Linked DNA regions of Homo sapiens: region 1 is linked to region 2. The links come from fine-mapping of genetic effects on gene expression. A gene starts in region 2. The other region holds a variant in brackets. All regions are shown on one strand. Distances are from middle to middle. Region 1 has its middle 10 kb from the start of MIR661. Region 2 holds the start of PARP10 (poly(ADP-ribose) polymerase family member 10).

Region 1 (11,037 bases), 32 kb before region 2:
GCTGGGTGGTAGCAGGCACCACAGGGGTCTCAGGTGACACCTCCTCAAGCTCCTTCCGACGGTAGACCCGCTGCTCCTCCGTCGGCAGCGGCCCCCGCTTGGGTGGGGAGCCCAGGGGACCCTGCACAGCCTGCACGTGGGGGGTGCGGCGTGCGGGCATCACCATGGCGACGGGGCGGCGCACGCGCTGCAGAGAGGCGGGCACGATCTCTGGCGGCAGGTGCAGGTACTGGCGGAGGTGGGCGATGCCTTCATTGGTGAGGTACCAGTAAAAGTGGCACCAGGCAAAGGTCTCGCGGACCAGGCCCCGTGCCCGCAGGGACGCCATGGCACGCATGACCTGCAGGTTGGTGACGCCGGGCACATGGGGGTGCAAGCTGCGGGGCCGCCGGTCCTTCTTGGCCACCATCACGCCCTCGCGGAAGAGCACCTCATAGATGGCCCGCAGCTGGTCCCGTGGCATGAGCATGCCGGCCACCATGGCTGCTGGAGCCGGGCAGTCAGTGCGGGGGCAAAGGCAGCAGGCAGGGTACCACGAGAAGGCCCGGGGCGCTGCGAGAAGCTCCCGCGCTACAGGGTGTGACAGCGGGCAGCGGCAGGGCAGGCGGGCGGGCAGGCAGGCTGGGGTGCTGAGCGTGAGGGCGCGGGCTCCCGGCTGTGTGGCTCGTGGCGCCTGGCTCCGTGCAATCCCTGCCGGCACTGCCGGCTGCCCGCCTTCCTCCAGGACGCCGGGCCGGCCCCCTCTGACTCAGCAGCATGGGCGGCCCCTCCCACCCACAGCCGACGGGGCCCTTGTAGAGTGGGGGGCACCTCAAGAGGCAGCGGCCACCCCCACAGCTGCCCCTTTCCCCCCACCAGGCCCCACGGCTCCAACGTCAGAAATGACATCAGTTTCTAAACACATCCTTCAAGGTCCCTAAGACTGTGCTGGGGCAAGTGGGGGCGGATATAGACCAAGAGTCTAAAGAAGAGGGTGGCAGGGCAGGCAGGGGGGCTGAGGGCAGGAGGGGTACTCGGCAGGGATGTGGGCTCTGGTGTCCCGGCTTCACAAGGATCTGAAGGGGGGTGCTGGGCTGCCAGGCCTGGAGGGATGAGGGATGCGAGGCTTGAGCGGAGAGGACTAGGGCCTGGGGAAGAAGCTGGGGTCTTGCGGGAGGAAGTCCGAGGGGAGCGGCTGGGGGCAGCTGCCACAGCACATGAGGAGGGCTGCAGGCACCGCTGCTGCTGTCCATCAGGCGGGCAAACGGACAGAGCCCCCACCTCCACACACCAGGCTTAGAGGCAGTGGCCACTCAAGTTAACACTTCCCATTCCAGGCCAGATTAGGAGTGGCCTCTCCAAGCCCACAGCCCTCTGAGCAGAGCACCGGCTAGGGGGCTCAGAGGGGCCTCAATTCACCCCCACCTCCAACCCAGCTGTTGGAGGCCAGAGATTCCCAGCCGCTGCCACAGAGAAAGTCACCGAGTCCCTACCGCCCACAGATGCCCACCCTGGGCAGCCCAAGTGCCCGTCTGCAGGCCAGATGGATGGCTGCAGGGTGGAAGAATGCCAGGCCAGAAGACGGCCAGGGCCCAAGGGAAGGGAAGAGGAAACTGCCCTGTGAGGCCCTGCAGGCCTGGCCCAGCCACACCCATCATCCACCCCCCCCTCCCCGCCCCGCTGCTGCCGCCCCCACTGAGGGTCCAGGCATGAGAACCGCACCCAACACTCCCACTGTCCCACGCTGTGCTCCATGGACCCCCACCCGTATCGCTGCTCGCCCCAAGCCGACACACCCCTTCCCACCAAGCCCGGCAAACCCGGGAACTGATTATAAATAGGGCGGTGGGGGGGAGTGGGAGAGAGGGGGGATCCCGAGGTGGGAGGCGCTGGCCAGCAGCCGGCAGGCGGCCAACAAGCAGCTTGTGGGGGCGGGTTTATGGGGCCGTCGCCATGGCGCCACGGTGCAGGCTCCAAACACACACACACACACACACACACACACGCGCGCACACACGCACGCGCACGCGCACGCCTGCGTACACAGAGGTGTGGTGGCGGGGAAACTCCGAAGGCATAGCCACGGTTCCCACAGCCCTCTGGCAGGGCCAGCTCGCTGCGGCATGGCTCTCCCTCCCTCTGAAGCCAGCCCCAGGCAGGAAAAGGCCAGCCTCAGGAGGTGAGGCTCCAGGAAGATGTAGGGACCACAGTGGCCACGCCCCTCGGACCACCAGCACCTGCGGACCCTCCACCCACCAGGGTTGTGGCTTTGGGAACAACACCAGCTGGGTCCAAGCCTGCCCAGCCCTGTGCCCAAAGAAGGCCCTACCCTCTTGGCCAGTCCCTCAGCGCACCCCCCCACACTGACCTCCTGCACTCCCGGCAGGCCGACCGCATCTTCCTGGCCTGATTCCCTAACCTAATCCCCCCCAGATCTCCAAGGGCCCCACCAAACTAACCCACGATACCCACACTGTCCCAAAATGATCCCAAGGCCTCTTAAAAGCACGTGGACCTAGGTTCTCTCCTACACAGGCCTGCAGGGGTGCCAGGACTGACCCCCGCTGGGCCGCCACCCAACCAGCCCCGCCTCCCCCAAGCCGGCTCCGGGCAGGAAAGGGCGGTAGCTTCCTCCAGCAGAGATGGGGCGGGGCTCGGCGGGAGTCCCCTCCCTCCCACCAGCCAGGGGCCTGCAGGCGGGAAGGGAAGCCGCAGGGAGGAGCCCGGAGCAGAATGTTCCTGGCCCACCCTGCCAGCTCCGCACACGCCCCCCTGCGGCATGCGCCACCCCCCCCCGCCTCGCAGCACACACCTCCTGCAGCACACACCCCCCCCGAAGCACACACACCCCTGCGCCAGGGTCCAGGCGTCCCCCAAGACCCCCGGGCGGAAGCTACCGCCCCCTGCCCCCACCCTGTGGGAACCGAAGCGGGAGCTGATTCAGCACTGGGAGGGCCAGGGTGTGCGACTGGGCGGCCCCTTCTCCCCCCACTCCAGACCCCTTTGGGTTTCCAGAGCAACCAGTCAGGGCTCCTGGGCAGCCCCCAGCCCCCCCACCCCACCCCAAGACAAAGAGCCGCAGTGTGGACTTGCTCAGGGCCAGCCGGCCCGGCGCCTCTGCACAGTGGTCCCCCAGCCCTGCCCTGCCCCTTGGACGCCAGGTTGTGGGCGGCAAACTCGGGCCGGGTGGAAGGGGCTGACCCTGCTGTGAAGGCTGAGCTCCCACTGTGTCCCTGTCCCCGCCCCGCCGCCGCCGCCGCCGCCGCCGCCGCTGCAGCAGCCACCCCGCCCCCGACGCTCCTGCAGGGCTGCGGAGCCGCTGAAGCCAGCCCAGTAGGACCCCGAACCAGGTGGAGCCCGGAGGGGGACGAGTCTGGGGTCTCCTGCGGCTCTGGCTCAGCGACCCACAGTGTCACCCCAGGGATGGCAGACCCTGCCCGCCACCCTGCGTGGACTGCACCCAGCCAGAGGTCACTGTGTGGTCCGCGCCCCCCGGCTCGGGCCCGGCCCCAGGACCGCACCTTTGAGGGAGCTGATCTCGTTCTGGATGGCTCGCGAGGGGTCCATGTCTGCGCCGGGGCTGAGGGCGGCTGTGCCACCACCAGGCAGAGTCCAGCCCCGCACCGCACTGCCCAGGCCAGCGCCGCAGCCGGGGGAGGAGCCCGGAGGTCCGGGGCAGGGCTTGCCGGCCAGGGGCGGGGCTTCAGCTGATCAATGCGCCGGACAGGGCCGCCCCGGGCGCATGCTCCCGGCCGCACCGCGCACCCCTCCCCCCCAGCCTGTGGTTCTGGGGCACGCGACCCCGCTAACCCCAGCCAGACTGCCAGGTCACCAGGCCGGATCCAGGAGCGCTCGGACGGCCCACTCCCCAGCTCCGCAGCCCCCGGCCCACCCCACAGCCCCCCGAGTCCACTGCAACGAGCCATGCTTAGAACAGCCTGTGGGACACACGTGCGAGGGCCTTGAAGCCGTTACCCGCGCCCTGCAGGAGATACCCACCCATCCAGATCTCCCAGTAACTTCCTCAGCCGGCCCAACTCCAGGGCCTGGGCTGGCAGGCTGCTGAGATCAAGCCCCCAGACCCTGGTCGGCCACCTCCCACCTCCCCGGCCCCAGCAGTGTGCCCCTTCCCCGGGCGTCTCGCCTCTGCGCAGCCCTGGGTCAGGCACCTTGTACACTGGCTCCAAAGATGACAGGTCCGACCTGCACCCTGGTCTCTGCCTCTCCCACCCAGCCTCAGGATGCCCCACAGGCAGCCCCACAGGTCCTCCTGGCTGCGCCCCCCAGTCTGCCCACTCGCCAGCATCTCCACTGCCGCCAGATGACACTGCAGCTCCATCCCTCACCCACCCCCCACGACCACCAGGGACCCTTCGCAGCTGCTCTGATCCAACCACCCCTATGGCTAATGGGGTCAGCCTCCTCAGCCCGCAGGAGTAGCTGTGTGTCACTGCGCACGCCTGGGGGAGCAGGTAGCACTGGCAGGGTGAGGTCAGCTCTGCCTCACTCACTGCGCTGCAGGGGGCACGGAGGAATGCTGGGCCCTGCCCACACCAGGGCACCCCTTCAACACTGGCCCCGGGACTGTGCTCCACCCCAGTCCGTGCTGGTAGTGTGGGGCAGGACAGCCTCCACAAGATAGAAGTGACTAGCCTGCCTCAGTCTCCAGCAAGGCCTTTCCTCTGCCTTCACCCGCAAGTCCTTCCCCTCCTGTAAACAGACCCACTGTGCGCCAGGCTGGGGCTGGCATGGAGGACGTGACCATGATCCAGGAGCGAGGCCGGCAGCTCCCACGGGTACGAGCTAACAGGCAAAGGGCCAGAAGCCAGCCCCACCTCCACCGTAGACCCAGCAGTTCTGGAGTCTCTCGTCCCCCTGCCCGTCCCTGCCCTCCCTGGGACTCAGCCAGTTGGGGTGTGGGGAGTCTCAAGAAACACCAGTTGCCAAACTTAAGGAAAATGGTGAAGTGAGGAATTAAAACAGAATTTCAGGCCGGGCACGGGGACTCATACCTGGAATCCCAGCACTTTGGGAGGCCGAGGCAGGTGGACCACTTGAGGTCAGGAGTTTGAGACCAGCCTGGCCAACATGGCAAAACCCCATCTCCACTAAAAATACACAAAAAAATCAGCCAGGCATGGTGTCACACGCCTGTAGCCCCAGCTACTCAGGAGGCTGAGGCACGAGAATCACTGGAATCCAGGAGGCTGAGGTTGCAGTGAGCCGAGATCGCGCCACTGCTGAATTCCCAGCTAGGTTTTACTGAGCTGTATCTGGATAAACCTAAATTTGGCCTGCAAGTGAATCATACTTCCTTAGTAAACCTCAAGTGAAAGTGACAGATATTTATAAAGAGATCTAAAAAGTTCATACATTTTTAAAAAATGCTGTTTTTTTTTTGTTTTGTTTTTTTGAGACAAGGTCTCACTCTGTCACCCAGGCTAGAGTGCAGTGGCTCAATCACGGCTCACAGCAGCCTCGACCTCCTGGGCTCAAGCGATGCCCCCACCTCAGCTTTCTGAGTAGTTGGGACTACAGGCGTGCACCACCACTCCCAGTTCATCTTTTAATTTTTTATACAGACAGTCTGTCTCTGTGTTGCCCAGGCTGGTCTCAAACTCCTGGGCTCAAGCAATCCTCCCACCTCCCAGTGCTGGAATTACAAGTGTGAGCCACACTGCCTGGTCCAGATCAATTTTTTTAATTTAATGCATAAAAATTTTCCTCAGCCTAGGGAGACTTTTTTTTTTTTTTTTTTTTAACTGAGGCAGAATCTCGCTCTGTCACCCAGGCTGGAGTGCAATGGTGTGATCTTGGCTCACTGCAACCTCTGCCTCCTGGGTTCAAGCAATTCTCCTATCTCAGCCTCTGCAGCTGGGACTACGGATGTGTGCCACCGCACCGGGCTAATTTTTGTATTTTCAGTTGAGATGGGGTTTCACCATGTTGGTCAGGCTGATCTCGAACTCCTGACCTCAGGTGATCCACCCGTCTTGGGCTCCCAAAGTGCTAGGATTACAGGCATAAGCCACCACGCCCGGCCAGGGAGATTTTTTTAAAGGATTAAAAC[G/A]CATAAAATGGAATGTTATAAGATTGGCCAGGCGTGGTGGCTGAGCACTTTCCGAGGCTGAGACAGGAGGATCACTTGATCCTGGGAATTCAGGACCAGTCTGGGCAACAAAGCAAGACACCGTCTCTGCAAAAAACTAAAAAACTATCCTGACACGGTGGCCTGGGCCTGTGGTCCCAGCTCTTTGGGATGCTGAGGCAGAAGGACGGCTTGAACCAGCCCACCCAAGGCTGCAGTGAGCCGTGATTGCGCCACTGCATTCCTGTCTGGGAGAGAGCAAGACTGACTCGAAAACAAACAAAAAGATAGGATCATGGTTTCAAGCTAATGAGAAGGTGAGGGCACACAGCTGTTCAGAGAAGGAACACACAGCTTTTCATGCACCGACTCCGCCTTTAACTTCCCCCCTGAAGTCAAGCTGCCCGCCTGTGAGTGGCCACCATGGTCACCTGTGGTCTCCCGCAGCCAGAGGCTTATCGACAAGCTGCAGCAGCAGCAAGTTCCCATGAAGGAGCCTGAGACTGCCCAGCCCAGCCTGCCTGGAACGGTGGCCACATGGTGCAGCCTTGGAAGTGGGGGCGGCCACGATGACCCTGGGAAGGGCTCAGCCAGCTGCACGTCAGTCAGCTCTGTGGTTCCTTCCCGGCACAGGCTTCCCAAAGGAAGGGACAGCTATGTGGGGACGGGCCGCAGGCAGCCAGCACAGGAAGAGAGGCCACAGGCACCAAGGCCTTGCCGTAGAGGAAACAAGTCCAGGCAACCCCCAAGAAGGTGGAGGTGGCTGCAGCCGGGAGGGGGGCGCCTGGAGACGGGGCTACAGCCGGGGATTTCAACAGGACAGGCAGGTCCCAGGCTGGCAGCGAAGGGCCCACGAGCAAGAGATTTAGGCAGCGGGGAGGAAAGGGAGCTGGGGTAGAGGAAGCTGGGCGCCCTGGTGACGCAGCTCTGGAGCGTGGGAAGCAAAGCCCCGGCCACTGCCCAGGAGATCTCATCGCTCTGGCCCCAATTCATGGATCACAAAGGAGTCTTGCCGAAGAAGCACGCGGGTCTGTGTGTCCAGGCCAGTGAACTGCAGGGACCCCCAGGCTGCAGTCGGGCTCACCAGCACCAGTGCCTCCGGAAAACCCCTACCTCTAGCTTCTGCTTTGCTGGTCGAACCCAGCATGGCCCCCATGCCCAGCTGGGGTGCCATCAGGTCTCCTGGCCAGGTCTCACACCCTGGGCAAAGCCAAATCCTCATGAAGCTCTCTGCAAATTCCCCACACCACTGGGGACCCCAGAACCAAGGTTGAGCCCAGGCACCACAGATAAGCCCTCCCTCCTTCCCAACCCCTCTGTCTGGGCACAGAGCAACCTCCTCTTCACCAGTCCCCAGGCCCTGGCTGCCCTGGCCACAGGCCCAGGCCAAAGAAGGGGCTCCAACCCTGTCCCCCACACCACACCTGCGAATGGGATGGGCCCTCCCCTGAGGCCCTGCCCACCACCACCCTGCCTGCCCTCAGCTTTGCTCCCTGCCCCATCTTCACGCCCACCCACCCACCCAGCCCCTAACCCCCTGGCAGCCTGCCCTGCTGGGGCTCTCTGGTGGTGGTGGAGCAGGCCAGTGGGCTGTGACCCAGTGACCCCATGCAGAGGCGACCTGCGACAGGCAGACACCCTGCTGGCAGATACCTCCACCTGGGGCCCCCGACAATAGCCCCAGGGAGACCAGGCCCAGTGAAATCCTGCCAGATACATCCAGCACACACTCAGCCCTCCGGAGGCACAGACCCCTGCTCTGCTCCCCGCCTGAGCCTGCGGCAGGTCCACAGGAGCCACCTCACCTGCCCCAGGCTTCTGCCTCGCAGCCTTGGCCCAACAACAGCCCGGCCTCTGCGGATGCTGCGGGACAGGTGGGAGGAGAGCCTTCCATGCTCTGGAGGCCACCCCTGCGCAGGGTGGGGCTCAGTGCGAGCTCAGTCGGGCCAGCCAGCCTGCAGGATTTCTGGGGTGGAGGGCCACCACTGCGGGACTGGATGCCCACCAGGGCTGCTGGGAGTCCCAGTGAGGGCCCAGGAGGCACAGAGGTCATCTCTCCGAGCCACATCCTTCTCCTCTCTCCCCTGCAGCCCAGTACAAGAGTATCTCAATACCAGGTGTCTGCTAGAGACCAATTTGCGGGGAAGGTCCTGGGTCCCACCCACATGACCATCCATTAGGGGGCCCATCGTTCCCAAATATCTCTCAAACCTGTCCTGTGCCCACTGTCTCCACCACACCCTGGCCTGGCCACCACCCTTTCACCTCAAAGACAGTGGTAGCCTCCCTCGTTGCCCCTCACCTCCAAGCACTGGACAACAGCAGCCAGTGCTCTCCGAGCACAAGCAGGTCCCACCACAGCCCTGCCGCTGCCCTCTGGAGGCCCTCCTCACGCAGGCACCTGCTCTGCTGCAGCAGGGTGGACCTCGCCAGGCCTCTGTGGAGAGGCTTCTCACCTGATCCATGGTGGCTCCCCCTTCCCTCCCTCTCAGCCCTCCAACACCGAGACACCTGTGGGCCCCTGGGGCGGCTGCCTCACCCAGCACCAGACACGAAGGTGTCACCACAGGAAACATGGAGCAAGAGAAGAAATGAATTCCTGGAGTTCAGGGATAATGCACTTTCCCAGAACTCTGTTAATATCGTTGACTTCACTAGCAGATTAAAGGAGAAAACCGGTATATTGATCTAGAAAATCTCGACAGCTCATTTGATAAAAACCAGTATTTATAACAAGGAATGAGCTTACATCGTTAACATGCAAATAAATGACCCTTGTAGCACAGCGGGGCACCCTCCCAGTGTGAGGCGAGGCTGCTGAGGGGAGGGCGTGTGAGGGTGAATGCGGACGGTGCAGGCGCAGCTCTCGGTCCAGCGCCAGGACATGGGACAGCATTTACCCAAGTCAGCACTGCTCCTCTTGGCACCTGAAACAACTCAACTCACCATTTACTGGAGCTCAGAGAAAGTTCATTGAGAGGCTGGCTTCAAACGCAGTTAAAAGACCCGAGAGATTTCTTTAGGCCAGTAATAACAAGTTAGGAAAATACAGCAGGAAAAACTCTTCATCAGCACAAAACGTGCTGGAATAAGATAACTGACGATCGGTCAGAGCTGATGCAGGGAACGCCCCGGCTCCAGGATGGCTCCAGGACCAGGCTCGGGGTCCGGGATGCAGAGGCCCAGGTGGCAGATGCCGCGCTAACCTGACGCGGCCGCAGTTCTGCTCACCCTCCCGCTGGCTCTGCCAGGAGACTCCTTACACAAGTTCCCGTCAGACAGCGAGGCCATGTGACTTGTCTGAAGCTCCAACACCGGGTGCTGGGCAGGTGGGAGGAGTCGGCCCACTTGGGCACTGCTGGAGGGACGACGACTGCAGTACCTAGCCAGCAACTTAGAAATTGTTTAAAAATTGTGTCTGAAACCTGGTGTGGTGGCTCACGCCTGTAATCCCAGCACTGTGGGAGGCCAAGGCGGGCAGATCACGAGGTCAGGAGATTGAGACCATCCTGGCTAACACAGTGAAACCCCATCTCTACTAAAAATACAAAATATTAGCCGGGTGTGGTGGCGGGCGCCTGTAGTCCCAGCTACTCAGGAGGCTGAGGCAGGAGAAGTGGAGGTTGCATTGAGCTGAGATCATGCCACTACACTCCAGCTTGGGCGACAGAGTGAGACTCCGTCTCAAAAAAAATAAAAAAGAACTGGCCAGGCACGCGGTGGCTCACGCCTGTAATCCCAGCACTTTGGGAGGCCGAGGCAGGCAGATCACCTGAAGTTGGGAGTTCGAGACCAGCCTGACCAACATGGAGAAACCCTGTCTCTACTAAAAATACAAAATTAGCTGGGCATGGTGGTGCATGCCTGTAATCCCAGCTACTTGTGAGGCTGAAGCAGAAGAATCGCTTGAACTCGGAGGGCGGAGGTTGCAGTGAGCCGAGATCATGCCATTGTACTCCAGCCTGGGCAACAAGAGCGAAACTCCGTCTCAAATAATAATAATAATAATAATAAAATAAACAATAAAATAAAATAAAAACTTAGGCCAAGCCCAGTGGCTCATGCCTGTAATTCAGCACTTTGGGAGGTCAAGGCGGGCGGATCACCTGAGGTCAGAAGTTCGAGACCAGCCTGGCCAACAAGGTGAAACCCCGTCTCTACTAAAAATACAAAAATTAGCCGGGTGTGGTGGCGGGTGCCTGTAATCCCAGCTACTCAGGAGGCTGAGGCAGGAGAATCCCTCTAACCCGGGAGGCGGAGGTTGCAGTGAGCTGAGACTGCATCTCTGCACTCCAGCCTGGGTGATAAAGCAAGACTCTGTCTCAAGAAAAAAAAAAAGAACTTATAACAGTTTACATTCTTCCCTTCACTAAACTTTAAAAATCAAAATCGTGTTGGAATAGAAAATATTCACGTGACTCAAACACTGAGAGTAGACAGAGAAGTCTTGCTCCCCTCCCTTCTCCCTGTCTCCCCCCACCCACACACACAGTGTGAAAATCACTGTTAGTGGCTTCCTGTTTGTTTCTCCAGAATTTCTTTACAGAAAATCAAGCAAATACCATGTGATTCTTGGTTTTCTTCCTTTTAACACAAACGGTGAAATCTTCCGGGCACCATTCTGCCCCTGCTTTCCCACCCACCCCACAGCTGGAGGCCTCCCGCTCTGCACGGGGACCGTGACCCACGTCTGGCCATGCAGAGCGGCACGTGTGGGCCCAGCCTCTGAGCGCACTCAGGCCAGTGACCATCGTCTGCTCGGACACACACTGCGCGTTTGTGGCTCTGACAGACGCTTTCTCTGGCCTGGTTCCCACAGCTTCAGCAACAGAACCTAGAAATCCAGATTTTTGATTTTTGCCAATACGATAGGTAAAAAACAGTATCTTGATGTAAATTAAAGCTTAAATTTTGAAAACCACTTGACCCAGAAATTCCTTTTTTTTTTTTTGAGACAGAGTCTTGCCCTG
Region 2 (11,037 bases):
TGAAGGTGATGGTGATGATGGTGGTGACGACAGTGAGTGGTGAAGGTGGTGGTGATGATGGTGGTGACGACAGTGAGTGGTGAAGGTGGTGGTGATGATGGTGGTGACGACAGTGAGTGGTGAAGGTGGTGGTGATGATGGTGGTGACGACAGTGAGTGGTGAAGGTGGTGGTGATGATGGTGATGGTGATGGTGGTGGTGATGACAGTGAGTGGTGAGGGTCATGGTGATGGTGTGATGGTGGTGGTGATGGTGATGGGGTGATGGTGATGATGGTGGTGATGATGGTGGTGAGGGTCATGGTGATGGTGTGATGGTGGTGATGATGGTGGTGAGGTCTGGGGACAGCCAGAGGTTCTTTTTGCATTTCTGACCAGCTCCTGGTGGAGGGTGATGCTGCTGGCCCCACGCACAACTTTGGGCATCAAGAGTTGAGAGTGCCCCGTGCAAGGCCGGGCGCGGTGGCTCACGCCTGTAATCCCAGCACTTTGGGAGGCCGAGGCGGGCGGATCACGAGGTCAGTAGATCGAGACCATCCTGGCTAACATGGTGAAACCCCGTCTCCACTAAAAATATTTTTTAAAAAATTAGCCGGGCGTGGTGGCAGGCGCCTGTAGTCCCAGCTACTTGGGAGGCTGAGGCAGGAGAATGGCGTGAACCCGGGAGGCGGAGCTTGCCGTGAGCCGAGATCGTGCCACTGCACTCCAGCCCAGGAGACACAGCGAGATGCCGTCTCAAAAAAGAGAGTGCCCCGCGCAGTGTCATCAGCACAGTGACCGCAGCGAGCCCGGGCCTTTCTGTGGAGGCAGAAGAGCGCCCAGAACAGCACAAGGGACGCATCTGTGGAGCGAGTAATCCTCAAAATGACCACAAGATGGCATCACCGCCCCATGCTCCAAATAAGGAAACTGAGGCCTGGAGCTGGTCCCATAGTCCCTGCTGACCCAGCCACGAGTGGCAGAGTGGGGACCCTCACTCAGGCCTATCAGATCCCAAGGCCCCCACTCTGTTCCCTCCTGTTTCCCTACCCACTTTGGGAACGCCCTCTGGGCAGAGAACAGGGCTGGGAGCCTGTCAGCTCCTGGTCAGCTGACCTTGATGTAGGCGAGAGGGACAGGCCACAGACTTGGCAAGGCGCTAATGGTGCAAGAGCCCAGGACGCCATGAGGCCAGAGAGACAGGGCATGGACTCACACGAACGACGCGGATGCTGCTGCGGGCAGCGTCCAGGGTGTCGTAGAAGGCCCGCACCACCTCCTGGAACTCCCCGGTGTTCTCTGCCAGACGCTCCAGGTTGTTCCAGGGCCCCTTCAGCGTCTGCCCCGCCACTGATGCATGGGGAAAAGCGGGGGGTCAGAGCCATGCCTGGGGCACTAGCCCCTGCTAACCAGCCCACCCCACCGTCCCTCAGTCCAGGAGGTAGACTCACAGGTAGGGCCTGAAGCTGCCAAGGGAAAGGCCAAACTCTGATCCCAGGGGCCAGCCAGAAGTGCCACCAAGTGGCGGGCAGCACGGGCAGGGTGGGCCCCGAAGCCACGGAGGATGGTGCAGTCACCACGCAGGGCAACACTCACACCATGGCACCGCTCCAGGCGAGCACGCAGCTCTGCAGGCAGTGTGCGGCGCCAGGGCCCCACCGTCTCCTCCTGGACGTGGACCTCCAAGGCAGCCCTGAGCGCCCGGTCCAGCTCCTCCACATCCTGCTCAAAGGCCGAGTGCACCACCAGCTGGGCCTTGCCATCAGTCCCCCCATCTGGGGGCTCTTCTGCCTCCAACGGGGGCTGCTCCAGCAGGGAGAGGGTTAGGGCTTGCCGCAGGGCAGCAGCCTCCTCCTGCTCAGCCACCTGACCTTGAGGCTCCAGTGACCGGTGGAGGGCCAGCTGCAGAGCGGCCTCCTCCTCCAGCCACCTGGGTGCCACAGTGCTGGGGGCCACAGGCTCCTCCTCCTCATGCCCTGGGGTCACCTCCTCCTCTGGCTGCTCCTGAGGCCCTTCCTCCTCCAGCTCCCGAGGCAGCCAGTCCTCCCCGTCTAGGTCTAGGCCCTCCAGGGTGGCCAGCAGTTCTCGGACCTCCTCTGGGGGCAGGGAGAGGCCATTGGGTCAGGGGCTGGACCCAGGAGGAGTTGGAATGGATGAAAGATGGGGAGCAAGTTTTTAGGGTACAGGGTGGGCCTAAGATGGGTCAGTAGACAGATGGGAGCACAGAGCAGGGCAGGGGGTGAGGTCAAGTGAGGGCCACAGGATGTGCTGAGGGCTCCCAGGGAGCCCTACCCAGGCTCACGTCCTCCTGGTCACCACCTGTACTGTCTGGGGTCCACAGGGTGTGGGCGTTGCCAGGGAGCACTGGGAGGGCCTCGGTAGGGTCCACCTGTAGGGAGAGGATGTCAGGACCACTAGCCTCTGGGCAAGGGCAGAGGAGGCCTGGGGCAGAGGCGTGAGAAAGGGGAGGGCAGGGGTGGGACTCCATCTCTACCTCTTCAAGGCCTGTGTCCAACGTGGCTGTGGCCAGGCGCTCTGTCCCAAAGACACACTGGAACTGAGCCTCCAGCCCCTGGAGAAGGTGCTGCCCTTCTGGGCCCAGGAGAAACCTGGCGCTGCCCGGGTGCTCCAGGCACAACACATGGCAGCTAATGCTGCCCAGCAGGCTCCGCAGAAACTCCTCAGCCGCCTGGCAGGAAGCCTGGGCTCCACAGAGCTGCAGGGCCATTGCAGAGATGGAGTTTGCAGGTTTAGAGCACAGGAAAGGTACTTTGAGTCCCCAGTAGGAGGAGGGGGCTGAAGGTGAGGAGTCCTGAGGGGTCACTCACCCGAAAGCCAGTCATATCCGGTCCTTCAAGTGGCAAGAGAGCGACGTCTCCCAGGCCCGCAAGAAGGTCCTCATGGTAGAGCTGCAGGAAGCGCATCGCCCCTGGCTCCATCAATAGCACCATCTCCACCAGGCCCTCCTGCCCTGCCAGCTTCACACATCCTGGGCTCACAGGCCCTGCCTTCTCCAGAGACCCCATGGTGATCTCCATGGGACCCACCAGCCCCTCTTGCTCTGGTGAGTCCATGGCAATTTCCACCAGGCCCTCCTGCCCCAGCAACCCCTTAGAGGTCTCCACTGGGCCTGCAGACCCCACAGGCCCCAGGCTCATGGGCCCCTCCTGTTCCTGCAACCCCACAGGCCTCAGGCTTACCAGCCCCTCATGTTCCAGAGACCCCATGGGCATCGAGCTGACTTGCTCTGCCTGTCCCAGAGACCCCATGGGACCTGTCCTCAGAGAGGTCCCTGACTGCCCTGGTTCCTGGCCAGAGCCTGTTGTCATAATCCCTCTACCCTGCACCATGGGACCTGTCCTCAGAGAGGCCCCTGACTGCCCTGGTTCCTCGCCAGAGCCCATTGTCACAGTCCCTGCACCCTGCAGAGCCGTCACCAACCCTCCGGTCCTCAGGAGAGCATGCTTGGTAGCCCTAGGCCCCTGGGTGGACGGGTGGTCCCCTCCACTGGTGTTCTCAGCCAGCTCCTCGGGCTCCAGGATGTCGTAGTGGGGGACAAGGCTCAGCTCTGAGCCCTGCAACCGGTGCTCCTGCTGCAACACTCGTTCTGCCACTTGGAGGAAGGGAAAGGACAGAAAGCCTGTCAGATTTCTGCAGGAGAGGGACGGTCGGCTGGGTCTGCCCAGCCCCACTCACCTTGCCACTGCTGGAAGGAGGCAACAGTGCCCAGGGGCCCGGGTAGGCGTTGCAGGTCCTCCAGGGGCCCCCCACCACTGCGGCGCTCATTCTCCAGGTACAACTCCAGCAACAGCAGGTCCACAGAGGCACCATCCCCCACCACACGCACCGCTCGGGCCTGGGGAACCCGGGCCAGGGACACCAAGGTCCCCTCCAGGCCCAGATTCTGGGCCTGCTCCTCCAGGACACGGACATCTGTGGGGTATGTGCAGGTCAGCTCAGGGAATCCCCCCTAGCCAGCACCTCAACCCCAACCCTGCCTCTCACCTGCCTCAGAAAGGGGCTTGGGCAACTGGACCAGAGCCCGGTCTGGCCGGGGGCTGGCCAAGGCACAGCAAGGCTGTACTGGGAGCCCCGAGGCCCGCAGCAAGGCCTGGACATGCTGCTCCAAGCGCTGGGGCGTGGTGCCAGGGGGCAGTCCTTGGAGCAGCAGGCGTGCAGGGGCTCGTGGTGGAGCTGGCCGCAGGCTCAGCTGGGCACCATGTAGTTCGTGATCTGCCTGGGCCAAGACCCTCTCGGCGTCTGTGGGCAGGGGCGGGGCAGGATGTCAGGCATTAGAATATCAGGGCACCCAGGCTGTCCCTTCAGCCAGCCCTCTCACCTGCAGGCTCTCTGAAGGTGAGGACGCCCCCACAGCCCAGTCTCTGCCAGCTCAACACAGGTCCCCCTCCAGAGCGTCGGCGGTTTTCAAAGTAGAGAGTGAGCAGCTCGTCGGGCACGGCAGGGGGCAGTCCACGGACCTCCACTGCCACCCCTGCCTCTGCCTCCGCCATTGCAACCCTGGGACGGGGCATCAGGTGGGTAGGGAAACAGCCCATTCCACCCCTCCTGCCCCTCCCCAGGCCCCTCCAAGGTGTGTCCTCAATGCTCCCCCATTATGGGTGGCCCCACATACAGCACTTACATTCCCCGTGGCCGCTAGGCAGCCTCAGGCCATGAGCTCAGCCAGGACTCCTGTGCCTGCCCCTCAGCAAGCCTAACCCTGCTGGGAGCAGGAAAACAAAAGTGAAACTGAAAGACGGAAGGAGGGAGGGAGCAGCTGGGCCCTGGGCGCTGAGGCCTGGGTACTGGGGCTCAGATGCTTCCTCTCCTGCTGCAGCCTCAACCCCCAGCTGACCAGGAGGTATTGGCCAGGCTGGACCCCTCAGGACCCTCCAGCCAACCCAGCCCAGCCCACCGGCCCTACCTGGCCCACTCCAGCCCCTGGTTGGCAGGGTAGACAGGAGTGTCCCCTGGTGGCCCTCCACTCCCCTGGCCTCCATGGCCTGAAAATGGCCAATCACCCGCCCCACTAAACCCACCAAGGGGCCTGAGTCACTGCCCCTCACTCAGGATCTCCAAGCCTCTGTGTCCATGACACCCTCTGCACACAAAGTGCTGGGTCTCCAGGCCCGCCCCCGGCCAAGGCTGGCCTTCAACGCCCCCAGCAACCTTCTCAACCCTGCTCCTGGTCCCTCACACCTGCCAGGTGCTGAGCATGGGCGGTTCCCCACCCTTGGTCTCCAAGAATGTGCATTGCAGCACAGCCTTCCTCCCGCCTCAGGTCTTGCCTGCCCATTCCTGCAGCTTTCTGTCCTGCCTGCACCTCCCCATCTCACACCATCATTGGCATCGTCACAAGTAACCTCAGAAGGTGACAAGGTAATGGCTCCACTGCATTCCTTGCTGCCGCTAATCCTCACCACAGAAAGGGAAACGGAGGTGCAGACAGGCCCATAGCAGCACCAGGCCTCAAACCTGGGCGGTGCCTTCAGAGTCCACACTCCCACTCGCCACAGATCTCCCACATCACCCAAGCTCCGTTTGCTTCCAGCCTTTCAAAGAGCTGTGGCCACTACCACTCTCCATCTCCTACTTCCCACTCACCCCTCAGCCCACCAAAACCCAGCCCCACCCCTGCTGTTCCTCCCTCCAGGGAGCTGAGGACCCTGGCCAGCCTGCACTCCTAGCCCTGCACATGCCACACCTCTGCTGCCCCGACCCTGGTCCCAGCCTCCAGCATCTCTCGCTAGGTAGCTAGGCTAACCTCTTAACTAGTCTCTGTCTGCCACTCCCATGGTGGGTCCTCAACAGAGGTGTCAGGGTGAGCCTTGTAAAATGACACCAGCAGCTGCTACAGCTCCCAGCATCAGCAACAGTAGAAACCAAAGTCCTGGGGGCCGGGCGCAGTGGCTCATGCCTGTAATCCCAGCACTTTGGGAGACTGAGGCAGGTGGATCACGAGGTCAGGAGTTTGAGATCAGCCTGGCCAACATGGTAAAACCCTGTCTCTACTAAAAATATAAAAATTAGCCGGGCATGGTGGCAGGTGCCTATAATCTCAGCTACTCAGGAGGCTGAGTCAGGAGAATAGCTTGAACCTGGGAGGTGGAGGTTGCAGTGAGCTGAGATCGTGCCACTGCACTCCAACCAAGGTGATAGAGTGAGACTCTGTCTAAAAAAAAAACAAAAACCCAAAGTCCTTTTGAGGACCTGCCCCCTGCCCAGCTGCACCTGACCAGACCTCAGTCCCTTCTCTGGCCCCATGCCCCCTGCACACCCTGATGCTCAGAGGGCTCCAGGCTCTCAGCTCTTCCTGCAGAGCTACAGGCCACTCCTGCCTCAGTAGCCTGGGACTGGCCCTTCCCTCTGCTTGGCCCTACCTTCCCCACAAACCCCCATGGCCACCCCTCTGGCATGATCTCCCTTACTCTGCCTTTTTTTTTTTTTTTTCTGAGACGGAGTTTCGCCCTTTCACCCAGGCTGGAGTGAAGTGCCGTGATCTCGGCTCACTGCAACGTCCACCCACTGGGTTCAAGGGATTCTCCTGCCTAAGCCTCCCAAGTAGCTGGGATTACAGGCACGCACCACCATGCCCAGCTAATTTTTGTATTTTTAGCAGAGACAGGGTTTCACCCTATTGGGCAGACTGGTCTCAAACTCCTGACCTCAGATGATCCACCTGCCTCAGCCTCCCAAAGTGCTGGGATTACTGGTGCCAGCCACCATACCCAGCTATTTTATTTTTATTTACTTATTTATTTATTTTTTGAGACAGAGTCACACTCTGTTACGCAGGCTGGAGTGCGGTGGCACGATCTCAGCTCACTGTAACCTCTGCCTCCCAGGTTCAAGCCATTCTCCTGCCTCAGCCCCCCCAATAGCTGGGATTACAGGTGCACACCACCACGCCCAGCTAATTTTTTTTTGTATTTTTAGTAGAGACGGGGTTTCACCGTGTTAGCCAGGATGGTCTCCATCTCCTGACCTTGTGATCCACCCGCCTCGGCCTCCCAAAGTGCTGGGATTACAGGCGTAAGCCACCGCGCCCAGCAAGCATTTTATTTTTCTTAAAGGTCTCTCAAATTTTGTGAGCTTCTGCTTCTACAAAGGTAGAAGTTACCTTCTACAAGGGTAAATCCATCCCTGCTTTTTCCACGTTTTCTCTAATGGAACTCATCACAGGTTATCCATTACGCCGACCCTGGCTGCAGAGGGCCTGCCACAGGCACCACTCACACCACAAGCAGACTGGTACAGTTTCGGGAATTTCTGTGGACTGGTTGTCCAGCTGGGGGTAACTTGAAACCAGCCCCGGTGGAGTATTCACACCACGCGCATGTGCAAAACACGCACCCCAGGCTTCCCCTCACTAGGTCCGGCTGCTAAACACTGCGCCAGCGCACCATAGGTGCAGGACTCAGAGCGGCCTGGGAGAGGCCGGCCCTCCAAGGGCGGGAGGGCAGGTGGGGTCTGGGCCCCGGGTGGGAAGGCTGGCAGCAGGATGTACCCTGCCTGTGTCAGTCACTGCTCCCCCAAGAGGACTTGGGAGCTAAGCAGGGAGGTGGCCTGGCCTCCAGTCCTGCTGCATCCCCAAGCCTCAGCCCCTCGCAGCTTGTGAGGACGTTAGGCAGACAAGCGAGCGTTCAGGGTCTCTAGTGTGAAAACAAGACATCGTATTTGTTAGTACAAAGGGTGACTGTGGTCAAGAATAATTGTACATTTTAAAACAACTCCAAGAGTATAACTGGATTGTTTGTAACACGAAGGACAAAATGCCTGAGCTGATGGATACCCCATTTACCTTGATGTGATTATTATCCATGGCATGCCTGTATCAAAACATCCCATGTAGCCCGTAAATATACACCTACTATGTATCCACAAGAATTAAAAAAATAAAAAAGGGTCTCTAGTAGCAGGCCTGGCAGAGTTTGGGCTGACAGAGCAAATGGGGCAATTAAACCACGAGGCCTCGATTTGGGAACTAAAGGATTAGGCTTCTTGATTTGGGAGAGATCTGGATGAAAAGAAGTGAACGTCGGGTTTTAAGGCCGAGAACGGACGGTCAGTCCCGGGCAGCTTCAGCAAATCCCGCATTTAGGAATAAATTTCTTAACTACCGAACGGCCAGTCAAATTGGCCAGACCAGACTTCTGCCTCCAGGGGTCTTCAGCGCCCACCGCCCGACCCCACCCCTCGGCAGACAGTGAGAGGCGGGCCTCTGGCCGGAGCGAAGAGGAACACGCAAGGCGGCGCAGCGGGAGGGGTCCGCGGAAGCCCCGCCCACCTGCCCCTCCCACCCCGAAGCTCGCCCGGCCCCGCCCCCTGCCCCGCCCCGTCACAAGGCCCCGCTGCGTCTTCCGAGCCGCAGGCGCAGGCCCAGCTGAGCGGCCGCCGAGCGGGTGCGGGTGCGGGCGCATCGGCCATCACCGCGCGGCCGCGCAGCGGACACCGTGCGTACCGGCCTGCGGCGCCCGGCCACCGGTGAGTCCCCGGCCCGAGCCCAGGAGCGCCTCTGACCCGCTGCGCCGCGCGGCCTGCCGCCCCCGCCCCCGCCCCCACGCGGATCTTGCGCATCCGAGCGTGGCCGCCTCGGGTCAGTAAGTTGGTCCGGCCGGGGCGCGCGGCAGCTCGCGGCCAGAGGTGGCGGCGGTGGTGGGGGCGGGGAGCCGCGGCGGCCTGGAGCCGGAGGGAGGGGGCGGCGCGCTGCGGCGACTGCTGGACCCGTGACCCTGTGCGCCCCCGGCCCGCGGAGGGCCCATCCGCTCTCGGTGCCAGTGCCACGGCCGCAGCCCCTACCCGCCTCGCCCCACGCCCGCTTTGTTCCCCGCACGCCCCGTGGTCGCTTCCATCCCCCACACACCCCCGCACCCCGCTGTTCCCGGCGTACCCCACTGGCAGGCACCGGCAGCCGATCCAGGCCCGATCCCCCCACCCCGGAGCCAGGGGCCGTTGGGCCCTGTTGTTGGGCTCGCGGGGGTGGGGGGGCTCGGGCCTTTGTTGGTCACAGATGGCCCGGGGATTTCCTGGGATAGAAATAGCCGCCGGCTCCGGCCCCTTAAAGCTGCTTAAGGGGCGGGATGCGGAGGGGAGGGTCCGGGCACACCCCACACGTCCCCGGCCGAGACCCCAGCCTCCGCGCTGAGCTCCCACCCGGGAGACGCCGGCAGCGGCGCAGGCCTCCGGTTGCTTGTGAGAAACGACCCAAGCCCCAAATCCCGAGGCTGGCGGTCGTCCCCTCGCCCGGCCCCTCCCCCACCCTAAAGGCGGCCTAGAGCCCTGGGAAGGCCCCACGGCGCCGCCCGTCCGGTCCTCACGCGCTTCTCCGGGCCCAGGCTCCGGGGCTCCCCACAGCCCGGGGCAAAGGTCACGGTCTTCCCTTGCTTCCCCCTGGGTTCCCAGAAGCAGGTGGAGTTGCGCAGGGCTGGGTCCCGACGCTGTCGTCAAGCCAACTGTTCCACTGTTCCTTGTCTGTCTTCTCTAGGGGCGGACCGCGGAACCCGAGGCCATGTCCCATGAAAAGAGTTTTTTGGTGTCTGGGGACAACTATCCTCCCCCCAACCCTGGATATCCGGGGGGGCCCCAGCCACCCATGCCCCCCTATGCTCAGCCTCCCTACCCTGGGGCCCCTTACCCACAGCCCCCTTTCCAGCCCTCCCCCTACGGTCAGCCAGGGTACCCCCATGGCCCCAGCCCCTACCCCCAAGGGGGCTACCCACAGGGTCCCTACCCCCAAGGGGGCTACCCACAGGGCCCCTACCCACAAGAGGGCTACCCACAGGGCCCCTACCCCCAAGGGGGCTACCCCCAGGGGCCATATCCCCAGAGCCCCTTCCCCCCCAACCCCTATGGACAGCCACAGGTCTTCCCAGGACAAGACCCTGACTGTGAGTCTCAGGAAGGGAGGGGTGGGGTGGCCGGGAGGGCAGGGGGAGGTGCTTGTGAGTGGCGCTGACCCAGCCTGTCTGCTTCTCAGCACCCCAGCATGGAAACTACCAGGAGGAGGGTCCCCCATCCTACTATGACAACCAGGACTTCCCTGCCACCAACTGGGATGACAAGAGCATCCGACAGGCCTTCATCCGCAAGGTGGGTAGGGGCATCTCCAAGGCGGTGGGGGCTGTGGCTCCCAGCGGATGACTCTGAGCGGCTCCTTCCCCAGGTGTTCCTAGTGCTGACCTTGCAGCTGTCGGTGACCCTGTCCACGGTGTCTGTGTTCACTTTTGTTGCGGAGGTGAAGGGCTTTGTCCGGGAGAATGTCTGGACCTACTATGTCTCCTATGCTGTCTTCTTCATCTCTCTCATCGTCCTCAGCTGTTGTGGGGACTTCCGGCGAAAGCACCCCTGGAACCTTGTTGCACTGGTAACCCCCAAACCTGAGCCTCTGTGCCTGGGTCCGGCCATGCAGTCCCACACGCCCACTCTTCCGGGCCTGGTCACCGTGGTTCTCCTTGTGCTCATGAGGCAGGGGCCGGCAGGGGTGGCATGGGGGCACACACCCAAGGTCAGCCTGTGTCTCCCAACTGCAGTCGGTCCTGACCGCCAGCCTGTCGTACATGGTGGGGATGATCGCCAGCTTCTACAACACCGAGGCAGTCATCATGGCCGTGGGCATCACCACAGCCGTCTGCTTCACCGTCGTCATCTTCTCCATGCAGGTGAGGGGCCTCCCGTGGCTGGGCTGTGGCCGCAGGGGCTGAGCAGCTTTCCCAGGCCCAGCCCCATGGCCCGTTCCTCTCCCACCTGCAGACCCGCTACGACTTCACCTCATGCATGGGCGTGCTCCTGGTGAGCATGGTGGTGCTCTTCATCTTCGCCATTCTCTGCATCTTCATCCGGAACCGCATCCTGGAGATCGTGTACGCCTCACTGGGCGCTCTGCTCTTCACCTGCGTGAGTGAGGGGTGACCTTGGCCGGGGGCGGGATGCTGGGCAGGCAGGCTTGTCCCTCAACACCACTGTGCTGTCACCTCCAGTTCCTCGCAGTGGACACCCAGCTGCTACTGGGGAACAAGCAGCTGTCCCTGAGCCCAGAAGAGTATGTGTTTGCTGCGCTGAA

The links. PIP is the estimated chance that this variant, and not a neighbour inherited with it, causes the effect. A credible set is the group of variants that fine-mapping cannot tell apart.
Region 1: its variant is the best candidate, but not a certain one, in a credible set for the expression of PARP10 in whole blood (INTERVAL, PIP 0.54).

The regions. Positions count from the first base shown.
Region 1 is chr8:143,950,226-143,961,262 of GRCh38, forward strand. It overlaps a transcript of PLEC not described here. Among named protein-coding and RNA genes, the nearest start is that of MIR661, 10 kb to the left of the region's middle. RefSeq lists enhancers at 1-421, 1,306-1,495, 7,108-8,011 and silencers at 636-775, 2,466-2,815, 2,886-2,935, 3,186-3,255, 3,496-3,795. The variant G/A (reference allele first, on the strand shown) is at 6,050.
Region 2 is chr8:143,981,738-143,992,774 of GRCh38, forward strand. It overlaps PARP10 (poly(ADP-ribose) polymerase family member 10), which reads right to left and starts at 4,723. Exons shown (of 11, transcript NM_032789.5): 1 at 4,621-4,723; 2 at 4,318-4,496; 3 at 3,984-4,238; 4 at 3,675-3,911; 5 at 2,807-3,591; 6 at 2,473-2,694; 7 at 2,271-2,367; 8 at 1,430-2,074; 9 at 1,195-1,328. The coding sequence starts at 4,622. GRINA (glutamate ionotropic receptor NMDA type subunit associated protein 1) reads left to right here and starts at 8,319. Exons shown (of 7, transcript NM_001009184.2): 1 at 8,319-8,462; 2 at 9,463-9,865; 3 at 9,955-10,067; 4 at 10,141-10,341; 5 at 10,508-10,636; 6 at 10,728-10,871; 7 at 10,955-11,037. The coding sequence starts at 9,487. RefSeq lists enhancers at 4,386-4,825, 4,496-5,399, 10,064-10,565 and silencers at 8,251-8,750, 8,771-8,910, 9,041-9,300, 9,224-9,518, 9,351-9,400.